Linked DNA regions of Homo sapiens. The protein of the gene in region 2 interacts with the protein of the main gene of each other region in a pairwise test. Each region holds a gene or a part of one and is shown on either strand. Other genes may lie near its edges.

Region 1 (7,322 bases), on a different chromosome or scaffold from region 2:
AAAAGAGCAGCTCTGGGTGCCTCCAAAGCTTTGCTGGGCAGAGGCAGTTGTGCCAAAAGTTGGTCAGTTCCCCTAGGTAGGCCTGGCACTGGCTGGGACCTCCAGCAGGGCTGGGTCTGCTCCTGTGGGGTCATGAGAGCCACACAGCCATGTCTGTGGTATTCTGTATGGGTACACAACCCTGGCCACGTTCCTTGCCTATATTGGTGCTTGCAGCAGGTTCCACCAGAAGGGTTGTTCCTCAACAAGTATCTTTGACTGAGTTCTCAGAATCATCCTCCATCCGTTCCCCCGGTCTCCCCCATACCTGCTCCATGTGACTACAGGTGTACCTTCCAGCTGTGCTGAGGACCTGACTGTGCTCCCAGCATTTCTGCTCTTACTTGCCATAAGGGTGACTTTTTTGGAAGGGCTGTGGTTGCTCTTCACATTTTGGGACAGGAACCCTTGGGTTGCTGGATGCTTCTGCAGAAGGGATGAGAGTATGGAAAAGGGCCCAAGTGAATGCGTTTGGTGCCTTCCAGCAGCCTGAGATTGTGAGAACCACCCCTGTGCACTCTTTAAATGCTTTAAAACGTTTTGTGTATGTGCTGAATTCTTGTAATAAACCCATGGAATAGGCAGGACATGAGTTATTTGGTTGAACTTTCCTTGTCATCAACTAGTTGTCGGTGCCTGAATCCTTGTCTGCATCTAACCTTTTATTTTTTATTTTTGTTTTTTAGAGGTAGGGTCTTGCTCTGTTGTTGCCCAGGCTGGAATTCAAGTGGTGCAATCATGACTCACTGCAGCCTTGAATTCCTGGGCTCAAGCGATGCTCCCACCTCAGCCTCCCGAGTTGCTCAGACTTCAGGTGCCTTCCACCACGCCTGGCTGATTTTTTGTGGGGGGGGATAGGGCCTTGCTATATTGCCCAGGTTGGAGCATCCAGCCTGTTCCTGAATGTTTCCCCTGTTACCCTGACGTAGGTACCACAATGGTCCCCTGTACTGGCCTGAGACACAAGACTAGTTGGCTGGACCTTGGAGAAGTAACTGCATGTCTCTGTTCCTGCCATTGCTGAAAGATCCTGGCTGTGCCATCAGCTTGCCTTGTTACCCTGTTCTTGGCTTCAGTTTCCCCATCTATAAAACGAAGGGGTTGAACTAGCTGATCTCTGTGGTGTCTTCTATTTCGGGCATTACCTCCTCTGGGGAAGAGAAAAACTAAAGAATCTAGTGACCACCTTAGGACATCCTACCCACATTACCAGCTTCAGTAGACAACCTTAATAAGTGGCTCATGGCACCTGATGAGGGAGATCCTTGTGCAGGTAAATGCAGGAGCCCTAAATGAAGCCAGCATTTTATTGCTCTCACAAGTAATGGGGAGAGTAAGGTGAGCTCTTAGTCTTGGAGGTAGATGGTGTTTGTGTTGTGAAGATGAAACTGAGGCCAGGCATGGTGGCTCATACCTGTAATTCCACCACTTTGGGGAGGCCAGGGCAGAAGGATTCTCTGAGCCCAGGAGTTCAAAACCAGCCCAGGCAACATAGTGAGACCTCATCGCTACAAAAATGGAAAAGCTAGCCAGGCATTGTGGTGCACACCTATAGTCCCAGATACTCTGGAGGCTGAGGCAGGAAGATCTCTTGAGCCTAAGAGTTTGATGCTGCAGTGAGCTATGATAGCGCCACTGCACTCTAGCCTGGGAGACAGACCGAGACTCCATTTCCAAAAAAAAAAAAAAAAAAATGAGGCCGGGCATGGTGGCTCGCACTTATAATGCCAGTACTTTGGGAGGCCAAGGCGGGCGGATCACTTGAGGTCAGGGATTCCTGACCTCAAGGAACTCCTTGAGGTGAGGAGACCAGCCTGGCCAACGTGGTGAAACCCTGTCTCTCCAAAAAAAAAAAAAAGAGCTGGGCGTGGTGGCAGACGCCTGTAATTCCAGCTACTTGGGAGGCTGAGGCAGGAGAATCATTTGAACCCAGAGGACAGGGTTGCAGTGAGCAGAGTTTGTGCCACTGCACTCCAGCCTGGGCAACAGAGCGAGACTCCATAAAAAAAAAAAAAAGAAATGAAAAATAAATAAAAATAAGAAACTGAGATTCGGAAAGATGAAGTGGCTTCCTCAGGCCAAGCATGAAGCTAGGAAGCAAACTCCAGTGTAACTAAGGCCTGTTCTCTTTGCCTTTTTTTTTTTTTTGAGACAGGGTCTTGCTCTCCTGCCCAGGATGGAGTGCAATGGTATGATCTCGGCTCACTGCAACCTCCATCTCTCCAGGGTTCAGGGGATTCTCGTGCCTCAGCCTGCCAAGTAGCTGGGACTACAGGTGTGCGCCACCACACCCAGCTAACTTTGTATCTTTAGTAGAGACGGGGTTTCATCATGTTGGCCAGGCTGGTCTCAAGCTCCTGACCGCAAGTGATCCACCCTCCTTGGCCTCCCAAAGTGCTGGGATTACAGGTGTGAGCCACCATGCCCGGCCCTCTCTGCCATTTATGGTATCGTTCTGCCATGCTGGATCGTATCTGGTCTCTGGCTGTGAGTTTCTTCTCTGCAGGGACTGAGGTGTGTAGAGATGGGGGAGGTCTCCAGTGCTTAGACCTGACTCTAGGGACATTGGGAGATGGAAATGTTTTGAGGCTTGGTTCCTGTCTCTAGGGCTTTCTGTAGTCAAGGTGAGGGGTACCTCAGACTGCTGGGAACTATAAGGCGAGGGGTCCTAACGGCCACTGTGGGGCTTCAGAGGAAGGAAAGGGTAGTTGAGGACTCCGGAAAGACCTGAAGGCTGGATACCTTTAGTTAAGGAGTGAGGAAGGGGTGAGCCGAGGGGGCAGTGCAGGCAGCCTTGTGGACGCTTGTCAGGGCCCTGGAGTGGGTGGGCTGGGCGGGCTTGATGGAAGCAGGTGTTGGGCGGCTTTGGAACCTCTTGTTCCTCCCTACATGTGGCTGGTCAGCCTGCGGAGCCCACGCTTCCCCTGCTCCTGGTTTGCCAGTTTCCCCTTTTTCTGCCCTCCTCACTCTGGTGTGGCTGTCATCCTAAACAAGTGTCATACTGAGTGGATGGATGGCAGCACTTACCCACCCATGACGCTGATGAGGCTGCCCTGTGCCGCTCCCCCTGCCCTCACAAACAGCAGAGTCAGGGTGCCTGGTCTCAGGAGCCCTGCTCCTCCGTGAACTCAGCTGTGTGCCGTTGACAAATCACCAAGGCTTTCTGGGTCTCAGTCTCCCTGTCTGTACAAGGGGCTGGGCTTTAAGATGTCATCTGCTGGGGTGGCTGGAATCTAGTAGGAACCAAGGCGGGTGTTTGGGAATCACACTTGCTGTGATTTAGCCTCCCGGACTGCTCCCCACAGAGCATCTGTGCTCAGGCAGACGGGCCCACCAGCTCATCCGTGACTGCCTTGACCACCTGAGAGGTGGCCAGGGACAGGATGGGAGCTGTGGGGTAGCCTTTTGGACTCTATAGAACCTGAAAGATGGAACCCTGAGGAAAAGGGTCATCGGACCCAGAGGGAATCCTGGCTGGAAACGAGTCTTGAGCCAGGATAAGGAAACAGCCCCTACACTCACCCCACCCTACCCCAAGCGGAAACTCTGTGCTGAGAACTTGCTATTTAAGAGGCCTCTGGGGAGGTCTGGCCAGAAAGGAGCCATTTGAGGGAGGGTTTAAAATTAGCCTGGGTGAAATGTGTGGCCCCTGGGGAGAACTGAAGCAGAGGTTTCCGTGGGTCTGCTCTGGTCTGGGTCTTTGACCCAAATCATGTCCTGCTTTCCTGGGGAGGAAGGGGAGGAGAGAAGGGAGTGGTACCGATCTAGGTCCCTCCATCAGGACGCTGGTGGCTGCACTCTTGGCCCATCCTCTGGGGTGAGGTGTTGGAGGCAGACCCTGGGCTACCCAGAGGGCTTGGTGCTCGGGTCCTGTCGTCCTTTCCCAGCACCCAAAGCACCCATCACCTCTGCCAGGCTGGGCACGTAGTAGGAAGACTTGGGTTTTGGGTTTTTTTTTTTTGAGACGGAGTTTTGCTCTTGTTGCTCAGGCTGGAGTGCAGTGGGCCAGGCTGGGCATGTAGTAGGAAGACTTGGGTTTTGGGTTTTTTTTTTGAGACGGAGTTTTGCTCTTGTTGCCCAGGCTGGAGTGCAGTGGTGTGATCTCAGCTCACTGCAACCTCTGCCTCCCGATTCAAGTGATTCTCCTACCTCAGCATCCCTTGTAGCTGGGATTATAGGCATGCGCCACCACACCCAGCTAATTTTGTATTTTTTAGTAGAGACGGGGTTTCTCCATGTTGGTCAGGCTGGTCTTGAACTCCCAACCTCAAGTGATCCACCCACCTCGGCCTCTCAAAGTGCTGGGATTACAGGTGTAAGCCACCACGCCCAGCCTTTTTTTTCTTTTTTTCTGAGATGGAGTCTCACTCTGTCGCCCATGCTGGAGTGCAGTGGTGCGATCTTGGCTCACCACAACCTCTGCCTCCTGGGTTCTAGTGATTCTCTTGCCTCAGCCTCCGAAGTAGCTGGGACTGCAGGGATGGGCCACCACACCTGGCTAATTTTTTGTATTTTTAGTAGAGATGGGGTTTTACCACGTCGGCCAGGCTGGTCTCAAACTCTTGACCTCAAGTGATCCACCCGCCTCAGCCTTCCAAAGTGCTGGGGTTACAGGCATGAGCCACTGCACCTGGCCGAGGCCTGGGTTTTGAGTTCCAGGTCTGCTGCCTTTAAAGAACAAGCCATGTGACCTTGGACAAGTCACTTCTGCTTGGGGATTCACACGCACACCTCAAGGCCCTTACATCAAAGGGCAGAGAGGCCTGCTGGGCTCAGGTCAGGAGCTCGGTTTCACCCATCCTGGATCCTTGGCTATCCAGACCCCCAGATGCTGCCAACAACAAAGCAGGATTCGAGTGGTGTCTCCGTGGGACATGAGCTGCCAGGGCTGTGAGGTGTGAGGTGCCATCACCCCAACCCCGGGCACAGAGGCTGGTATAGTGGTGCCTCTACTGAGGGGAAGACGTGTCCCAAGGGAGAAGATGCGTCCCAAGCGGCCCGAGATTCTGCTGAATGGGCTTGGCAAAAGCTCACGTGAGGTTTGTCTTCACCATGGCTGAGAGTCAAAGTTTAAGAGACAAAGTTTGTCTTCACCGTGGCTGAGAGTCATTCTTGCGTGGGTGGGAGTGGTGACACCAGTAACCAGCAGCTATCCTGGCTGATTTCCTTTGACATTCTTGGCTCTGTTGAGTTCTCTGGGTGCATTGGGTGTAGTTTTACCTAACATTGCTCCAGCTTCCTGAGACAAGCCACTGATAAAAGCCATCGTCTCAGAAAGGCTGTTGTCTGGGGTCAGCGGGCCATCACTAGAGAGCGGAGCAAGTTCTTTGGTACCTCTCAAGAAGGGGATGTGGCCCACTGTAGGGCAACTTAATGCTTTCAAGAATGGCCGCGTGATGGGGTGAGGCATGTGAACTTCTAAAATCTGCAGCGGTGAGTTCAGAAGACCTGTGCTTGGCTTCGCAGGAGGAGATGTGGCCCAGAGCAGGAGTCAAGCGTGTAGGGACGCTCTGCTTGTTCACATTTTTCATTATTCAGGAAGCCACGGTTTCAAAAAATGTTTTGAATGGATCTAAGCTATGGAAAGTCTCCCCTTCCCCATCACAATTTTTGGCTGATCAGGGCTTGCTAGTTTAGCATCCGGTGCCAGCAGCGTTTAAATAGCAGCAGTGGCTACAGTCACAGGATGGACACCTAGTGTTTAGATCTGGCTTGTAACCATGTTGGGGGCAATGCTCAAAATTCACAGCATCAGCCGGGCACGGTGGCTCAATCCTGTCATCTCAGCACTTTGGGAGGCCGAGGTGGGCGGATCACTTGCGGTCAGGAGTTCGAGACCAGCGTGACCAATGTGGTGAAACCCCATCTCTACTAAAAATGCAAAGAATTAGCTGGGCATGGTGGTGCATGCATGTAATCCCAGCTACATGGGAGGCTGAGGCAGGAGAATCGCTTGAACCGGGGAGGCAGAGGTTGCAGTGAGCCGAGATGGCGCCACTGCACTCCAGTCCGGGTGACAGCAAAACTCCATCTCAAAAAAAAAAAAACTCACAGCATCAAATGCTTCACCTGAAGCTGGCAAGATCTTAGCGTGTTCTTCAAAACTCAGCATAATGGTTTTGACTGTTTACCCATTACCCTGTTCAGTCAACATTTAGTACCATCACCATGCTAAGAGCAGGCAGAGAGGCAGGAGTATAAGGTGTTTCTTGACATTGAAGGTCCCACATCTCGTGTAGGAGCAGGAGATGGATGAGAAAGTGCCGGGCCCTCTGTTGAAATCACTGCAGGGGATAGTGGGCATGGGACTCTGTTTCCTTTACATCTTTGCTCCTCCCCTCGACCAGACTGGAGGCTCTCTACCAGGAGGCCATGGGTATCATCTAGAAAACAGATACTTTTTTGTCTGAGGGGCCAGTGGTGCAATGGATTAAAAAAATAGATACATTTTTACATGTACATTTTTGGGGGGTCAGGCACTGCAGCTTTCTTCAGATTTTTAGAGGAGGCTTTGGTTTGAAAAGGCATACCGATTAGCATGGCGTGGTGGTGTACCCCAGTAATCCCAGCTACTCAGGAGGCTGAGGCAGGAGAATCTCTTGAACCCAGGAGGTGGAGGTTGCAGTGAGCTGAGATCACGCCACTGCAGTTTAGCCTGGGCAACAGAGTAAGACTCTGTCTCAAAAAAAAAAAAGAAAAAAAAAAAGGCATGCTGGGCTGGGTTTGTACCCTTATCAAACAGGGCTTTCTTTTTGCCTCTGTTCACCAGCAGACTCAGTCTGTGTGCAGAGGCATCCGGCAGACGCAGCACGATGCCTCTGGGATGTACCCAGAGAAAGGAAAGGGCTTTGAGAAATTGAGTGCTGTGAAACAATGTTAATTTGCCTTGGGTATCCAAGGAGGCCCAGGAAAGGCTGAATTCCTCTAAGCTCTAGAAGGATTCCAGTTGCCTGCCTGAAGGAAGCGCTGTTGTCATCCCTGTCCGTCTTGGGCAGCCTGGCCCTGATCACTGGTCTCTGTCTCCAGGTCCGGACACTGTTTGTCAGCGGCCTCCCTGTGGACATTAAACCCAGAGAACTCTACTTGCTCTTCCGGCCGTTCAAGGTGAGTCAGGACCCAGCCGCCCCCTGGGTAGAGCCTGGGACCCTGGAGAAGCAGCGGGAGTGAATCTCGGGTCGGGCAGGGCAGCAGGATGATGCGGGAAGGCGTGGCAGAAGCTGTGGGGGCAGGTCCAGCCCGTGTCCTGGTTCTGCGAATTCACATGCTGCCTTCTGAGCCTCTGT
Region 2 (7,537 bases):
CCAGTACTCCTGGGAGGCTCTCCCCTAGCCAGTTAGGAGAATGTAGTATTTATGTAAATGTCTGTTCATGAGTGCAGTGTGCCCTCAGAGTCCACTTTCCAGCATTCCTGGCATAGCCCCCTCCACCCTGCCGGGCTCCAGAGGAGGGAGGGAGAGGGAGGCCCCGCCCCCAGCCCCCTCTCCTCCCACTCCTCCCTGCTGGGCAATGAGGAAAACAGGAGTGAGGGAAGAGCTGTGATGTGGCTGGTTGGGGGGGCTCCCGCATCCCAGAAGGGCTGACCTCAGCCTGGGAGGAATGTGCAGGAGGGGAGGGCAGGGGTGGGGCAGGCGGGGGTAGGGCCACAGCCAAAGGCCCAGGGTTCTTGGTAGCCCCTCCCTCAGCACCTCCATCTCAGTTCTGACAGGGCCCTCAGAAGGGAAGGGGAACAGGCAAGGAGGGGAGGAGCTAATCTTTCAAAAAAGGTGGGCCAGGGTTCCCTGGGAATGTGGAGACCAGGCTGGGGTGAGGACATGCCTGCAGACGCTTCCCCAGGAGATGCCCCTGGGGCAGGGCCTTAGAGTGTCTGGGAAGTTAGGCCTCAGGTGATGATCCTATGGCCGCCCACGCCTGCCCCCACTGTGCCTAAGTCCTCTGGGCAGCATGACCTGGTACCTACGTGGCCAGAACAAGGAAGAGTTGTGACGTTGGAGCCACAAGCCCTGATGACTAAAGCAGGTGTGAGTGGGGCGCCCAAGATCCCATCCAGTCCAGGCTGCACTGGGAGGGTTGCCACAACCTTCCTCAGATGGGTGTCCCACCCCAACCACACCACCCGGAGTCCAGGCAGGGGCAAAGGGGCAGGCCCAGCTGGTGGCCAGGGGTGGGGAGGCAGGTGCTGAGATTTGGCACAACAATCCAGGTTTTTCCAGAAGGAAAAGCCAAGGCCGTGGTAGGCCATGCCACTGACAGGCAGCCCCAGAGCAAGGACCCAGGCAGGTCTCTGCCCATGGAAGCTCCCTCAAAAGAGAGAGGTCCAGGGTAGGAGTACAGGCAGGAAAAGGGACCCCAGCTGCCTTGCCTGGTTTGCCCCATTCTGTTGAGACTCAGGCTCAGGCTGCCTGATTCCAGAATCCTCGAGGAGTTCCAGCCCCCAGTGTGACCCACAGGCAGTGACCTTGCTCCTGGAGTGCTGACCTCCATGGGGGCCCCTACCCATGGCCTGGCACACTGGACCTGGGGCTGAGGAACAGAAAGGGGACCATGTGGAATCAGGGACAACTTGACCTCCCATCCCTGGAGACCTCCATTCCTACTCAAGGGAGGGTACACATCTAGAGGACAGAGGACAGGGCACAGCACTCAATGGGGACAGAGACAGTCTAGTCCTTTTGGCTGGGGGTTGACTCCCAGGCTATTGGAAAGATAATGGCGGTGGCGGGGGGGTTTCTGATACCGTTTCCCAGAGTGAACACAGGTGGAGGAAGGTGCGGGGTGATGAAACAGAGACAGGGCCCCTGGGCCTGGAAAAACATAAGGCAGTGAGGGCCTATGGGGGCACAGTGGGAGTGGATGGGAGCCTCTGAGGCACTTGCTGATCCTGGCTGCTTGGGTGGAAAGCTGTAAACAGCCAAAGAATGTTGTCTGCTTGCATGGAGCCAGGAGAGCCTGCCCAGGTCCTCTAAGGCTAGAGGCAGCTACTCCTGGAGTAGGAAAAGGCCACATCCAGGAAGCCCACGAGCCCAGGCAGGGATCTGTCCTTCCACTTGCCCTCCTGAAGGGCCCTGCGGCTCCCACTGGCCCCTGTTATTTACCTGCCAGCTGGCCAGGCCAGGCCAGGTATACCAGGTCCTCAGGCTCAGGAAGGAGGGGCATAGCCCCACTTCCACTTCCAGGGGACTTGGAGATGTGCCCCCCACCTCTGTCCTTGCTTGGCTGGAGGCATCCAGGGCTGGGCAACAGAACTGCAACACTTGAAATGCCCACACTGCCCCATCAGCCTTGGGAGGTGGTAGGAAAATGCCTTTTGCGGGGATGGAAGGATCAAAGCCCATTCTCAAGCCCTGGTATATTCACTCAGGTGGACTTCAGGGCTCCACTCTGCCACTGTCAACATACAGTCCCTCCAGAGAAGTACCCCTCATGTTACAAATGGGGCACGTTCACCAGACTCAGCTTCAGGACAAGACCCCAGGTCATTCCCAACTGAGGCTCCGAGGTGCAGGAGCTCCGTCCTGTCTGTAAAACTCCCTCAGTTTTCGGCTCTGGGTTTGGTGGGGGTTGTTCCTCCCACCTCCAACCTAGAAAGAGAAGCCAGAGGAAGGGAGGTCACATGGTCTGCCCCCCAACCTCTCAGCAGAGATGCAAAGCTACCTGTCCAGGATGGCGGACTCCAGATGGGCCCCGCCCTGTGGTGCAGAAGTGAGATTTGCTGCTCCTCCTGCGTCTGCCCCTCTCCTGCCCTCCTCTCCCTCCCCTATCTGGCTGTCATGGTAGAAGCCACTGCTGGCCAGGCCACTGAAGTACTAAGTGGCCCAAGTGTTGAGGAAGGATGGGGACTGGGTCCTGAGGGCCCATCCGACCTCCAGTTGAGAGCCCCTCCCCTGACCTCCAGCTGCCCGGCCACCCCAGCCGGTCCCTGGGAACTGAGGTGGCAGCTGAGCTCCCCATTATCTTTCCCCACAGCTCCCCACCTGTGGAGGGAGAGGTTGAGATATTGGAGTCCACGGGTGGTGCCCCCACTCAGTGATTCCCTTTGCCTGCTGAGCCCCTGGAGCTGGGGTTTCTTCCTCCCTTGCCTTGGCTGGCCACCTGGCTTCTGGGACCGCCACCTGGGGCACCCTTCTGCTTTAAGGCCCAATATGGGAGGGGTCGTCCCTACCAGCCCCTCCCTTGTGCCCATTCCACTCCCGCCTGGCTGCCGTCTCCAGCTGGTCCCGGCTGCCTGCCCGGTCACCCGATCCGCCCTCTAAACTTTACGGCACGGCGGGCGGTGCGTGGGGCGGTGGCTGGCCTGGTGGGGGCGGGGGCTGCTTCTTAAAGGAGCCGTCAGAGGGTCCCCAGCGGCCCCAGGGTGGGAAGGGGCCAGAGTGGAGAGATGCTGCTGCGGAAGTCCTCGGTGGAGTGTGAGAAGGCAGCCAGTGTTGGCCTGGAAGACCTCTAGAACCTGAGAAGAGGCAGCGGCAAGTGTCAGCGGAGGGAAGGAGGGAGGTGGGGGTCCTGGCCTGGGATGGGGCCAGGAGCTGGGCAGGAGTGTGGGTGGAGGGGCCTGGAACCTGCCTCAGCAGCTGCTCCACTTGCTTAATCCCACCTGGAACCTTGTCCCACTCCCTGGGCTCCTGTGTCCAGCACCTGCCCAGCTGACCCCTGGGAAGGAGGGTGGGCATAGCAGCCAGGTCTTTGCCCCAGCTGAGGGCCAGGGGGAGGTGTCTGGCTCCTAGAGTGAAGGGGCTCAAAGATGGGGAAGAACTCAAGGGGTGAGAGAAGTGAAGGGAGAGGCTCAGAGAGGCTGTGGAGGCGTTGAGAGGGAAGGCCAGCTCAGCGAGGCCAGGAGGCTGGGGTGCAAATGAAGGGCTGCCTCACCTTGCCCCTCTTTGATTCCTCAGGGGTGTGGAGAGAGAGCCCTCAAGCTCAAATGCAGAGGCTGCTTCAGCTGGGTTGGGAGCAGTCCCCAAGTCAGAGGCTGAGGCTTCTGCCCAGGTCTTGGGTCTCCTGGGTAGCACTTCTCCCTCTGAGGAATGGAGTGATTGATGCTGCAGTTGGATTTGCTCACTTGCATGCCCAGAGACATGTCTATTCTTATGGGTGCACACGTTTGCACATGCACAAATGTGCAACACATCTGTGTGCAAAATATGCACATATCACACATATGTACTGCATGGATTGCACAGTGCCACATGTGTGTGCACACCAACCCATATCCACACATGTGCAATATGACACACTATATATTTGCACATAGATGTGCACACACATGCACATACACACTACACACATGCGCACATCACAAGGGGACACTCGGAAACACATTCACAGGCACCCACACCCTTGGCTCCAGCCTCAAAAGTGTCTCTGTGTTTTTCTGCGGGACTGTGGGGACACTGCCACCTCCAGAGGCCTGACCCCCTCCTGTCACTCTCACTCTTTTGACTGGCTTGTTTTGCTCATTGCACTTGGCACCCTCTGCATCCATCTGATTCCTTGTTGGCACTCTGTCCCCTTTCACATGGGGACCTTGTCTATGTCTCCCAGTATCCCTCCTCCCAGGTCTAGGCTGGCATGAAGTGGGTGGCACATTGTGAATTAATGTCTGTGAGTGTGTATACAAGAGAGGAGATTACTGGGAAGGGTGACGTGGTGAGGCGGGCTTGCCAGTGCAGGGTGACCCTGAGGGTGTGCCCAGTGGCGTGGGTGTGTCTGTGATTGTGGCCAGGCGGGGCACCCTCGGAGGGGAGGGTTCGGAAGTGGAATGCGACCCCCCAGCCTCTTTCCCCTAGGGGCTGTAATCTGATCCCTGGGGACTCCCCCCCTAGCCTCCCGCCCTCGCCCTCACTGCTGACTCCTCTTCCAGATCCTGGGGCAGAGTCCAGGGCAGCTCAAGGCTCCTCCACACACACACCCGCTGAACCCTGAGCACCCTGAGCTGCTGAGATGGGGCGGGCCGGGGCTGCCGCCGTGATCCCGGGCCTGGCCCTGCTCTGGGCAGTGGGGCTGGGGAGTGCCGCCCCCAGCCCCCCACGCCTTCGGCTCTCCTTCCAAGGTAGGTGCACCTGGCAGGCGGGAGGGCCCAGCTTGAGGTGGGCAGGAAAGGGTCCCCGTATGGCCAGGGGGCTCTGTGTTGGCTGTTGCCCCATGTGCGTGCCTGTCACCAGACTCTGGTAGGATTAGTGGGCACTCTCAGGCCACCTCCAGTTAACCCTGTCCGGGCCTCAGCCCCCAGCCTCTGCCCACATTCTCTTCGTGCTTTCTCAGGAAGACCCCTCCTGTCCCCACAGCAACAGACCTTGTCTCTGTTCCGTTCAGTACCCCCAACAAGGCGATACTCCTTCAGCAGAGCAACAGGGAAGTCAGAGCCCCCTTCTCATGCCTCCTGTATAGGAGGGTGGCCCCTGGGCAGTGGCAGTGAATAGGCAGTTCTGCTGAGCTCAGGCTGGTGGTGGAGTGGCAGGAAAGGAACTCTCAGCCTGACTTTTGGGAGTTGGGGTTCTGGCCATCCCTGCATGCCAGTCTCCCCCAGGACTCTGGTGTCCATAAGCCTTGCCTCCCAGTGCGCCCGCCTGGAGACACCACCTGTCTGAGCATGCCCAAGTTCAACCTGCCTTCCTCTTCCTGGGGGGATGTACCACCTACCCTGGCAGCTCCACACGTGCACCTGGGTGGGCTTGGGTTTGCGTGTGTAAACTCACACACATGTAAACTCACATGTGTACAGGCCAGGTCCTAATGGCAACCTTGGCCGATAGAGTCACCACCAGGCAGGACCTGGGGGAGGCTTCCAGCATGGCTGGCGAGTCATCAGCAGTGTCCTGCCCTGCAGAGCTCCAGGCCTGGCATGGTCTCCAGACTTTCAGCCTGGAGCGAACCTGCTGCTACCAGGCCTTGCTGGTGGATGAGGAGCGTGGACGCCTGTTTGTGGGTGCCGAGAACCATGTGGCCTCCCTCAACCTGGACAACATCAGCAAGCGGGCCAAGAAGGTGCCAGGGACTCCCAACCCCAGCACTCCCCAGGGAAGGAGCCCTGGGACCCCACTCCAGCCTGGAGAGACCCAGAGGAATGGCTCCCTGAGGTAGAGAATATCCCAAGTTCCTGACCTGTGTCCCCTCTCCCCCAACCTCCCGATAGCTGGCCTGGCCGGCCCCTGTGGAATGGCGAGAGGAGTGCAACTGGGCAGGGAAGGACATTGGTGTGAGTGCCAGCTGCCCGGGCCGGGAGTGGGGAGGGTCAGCCCCTCACCCCAGAGACAGGGCAGGGCTAAAACAGAGGCCTGCCTGTTCTGGCTGGGATGAGGGCAGGGAGGTCGAGGTGGCTGAGGTCTGGGGGTGGTGAGTCAGGGTGGGGGCTCGTGTAATTCTTCTGGGGTGCCTCTGAGTCATGGGAGGCTTTGCAGGCCTGTGCTTCCCCAGACACCCACCCTCGTGAGGCCTGGGCTGGTCAGCAAGGGCCCCCAGGTCCCTGTAGCCCATGTTAGTACTTGCCTGGGCTGATGCCGAAGAGAGGGAGGGGTGAGGATGCCACTGGTGAGCTGGGACCTCTTAAGGCTACGTCCCTGGGGGAAGCCTCACACCTCCAACCCTACTAGACTGAGTGCATGAACTTCGTGAAGTTGCTGCATGCCTACAACCGCACCCATTTGCTGGCCTGTGGCACGGGAGCCTTCCACCCAACCTGTGCCTTTGTGGAAGTGGGCCACCGGGCAGAGGTAAGGCCGGATCTAGGCAGGGAGGGAGGTCAGGAGGGTAAGAAGGGCCTGGTAGTCACAACTTGCCACACCTCCCAGGAGCCCGTCCTCCGGCTGGACCCAGGAAGGATAGAGGATGGCAAGGGGAAGAGTCCTTATGACCCCAGGCATCGGGCTGCCTCCGTGCTGGTGGGTGAGTCCAAGGGCTAAGGCCCCAAGAGAACCCCTTAGAAACTCTAGAACCTCACAAAGTCCCAAGACCCCCAAGAGCTCCAGGGAATCCCCCATAACCTCACTCACTCCCAGAGCTCCCCAGGCCCTCCTGCCCCAAGAGCCCTCCATTTGCCTGAGTGGCCCTTGCTCTGTCTGCAGGGGAGGAGCTATACTCAGGGGTGGCAGCAGACCTCATGGGACGAGACTTTACCATCTTTCGCAGCCTAGGGCAACGTCCAAGTCTCCGAACAGAGCCACACGACTCCCGCTGGCTCAATGGTGAGAGGCTGGTGGGGTTGGTGGGTAGAGGTCGTCACCCTCCCACAGGGCAGGTGCCAAGCAAGGCCCATAAAGTAAGTGAGCAGTGGGTGTGGCCAGGTCTTACCAAATACCCTCCTTAATCAGGCACTGGCGTCACAGAGACAGACAAGACAGGTATGACCGTGACCTCTTTGAGTTCACAGATCACATACATGATAAGATCAAGTCCAATGGCCTTGAGGCCAGAGAGAGACAAGGGAGGAAGGGAAAAGGAGACTGGGTGGCTGGAGGGGGTTGGGTAAAGGAAGCCGCTGTGCTGAGGGGAGTATGAGCTAATTCCCAAGCACAAGACAGCTAGCCAGCAAAATTTAGGGATGAGCATTCCAGGCAGAGGGAGCATTCCAGGCAGAGGGAGCAACTAGTGCAAAGGCCTGGATGCAAGAACAAGCAAAGGAATAGACTTGCAGAGCTAGCAATGAAAAGGGGGCCTGGACTGTCAGGGGCCAGAGTCATTTATTCTAAGAGTCATGGGGGCTGGGCACAATGGCTTGCACCTGTAATCCCAGCACTTTGGGAGGCTGAGGCAGACAGATTGCTTGAAGACAGGAGTTTCATACCAGCCTGGGCTACAAAGCAAGACAAAAAATAAAATAAAATTAGCTGGGGGCAGTGGCATGCACACACC

The links.
Region 1: the proteins of SEMA3B (region 2) and RBPMS2 interact in binary tests that used the Homo sapiens proteins (3 or more experiments, as listed by UniProt).

Annotation. Positions count from the first base shown.
Region 1 is NC_000015.10:64,751,382-64,758,703, reverse strand, and holds part of RBPMS2 (RNA-binding protein with multiple splicing 2), read left to right. Parts: intron 1-7,065; coding exon 7,066-7,143; intron 7,144-7,322.
Region 2 is NC_000003.12:50,264,611-50,272,147, forward strand, and holds the start of SEMA3B (semaphorin-3B isoform 1 precursor), read left to right. Parts: upstream 1-4,536; 5' UTR 4,537-4,630; coding exon 4,631-4,739; intron 4,740-5,516; coding exon 5,517-5,674; intron 5,675-5,822; coding exon 5,823-5,885; intron 5,886-6,279; coding exon 6,280-6,399; intron 6,400-6,477; coding exon 6,478-6,571; intron 6,572-6,750; coding exon 6,751-6,870; intron 6,871-7,537. UniProt on the Homo sapiens protein: Inhibits axonal extension by providing local signals to specify territories inaccessible for growing axons.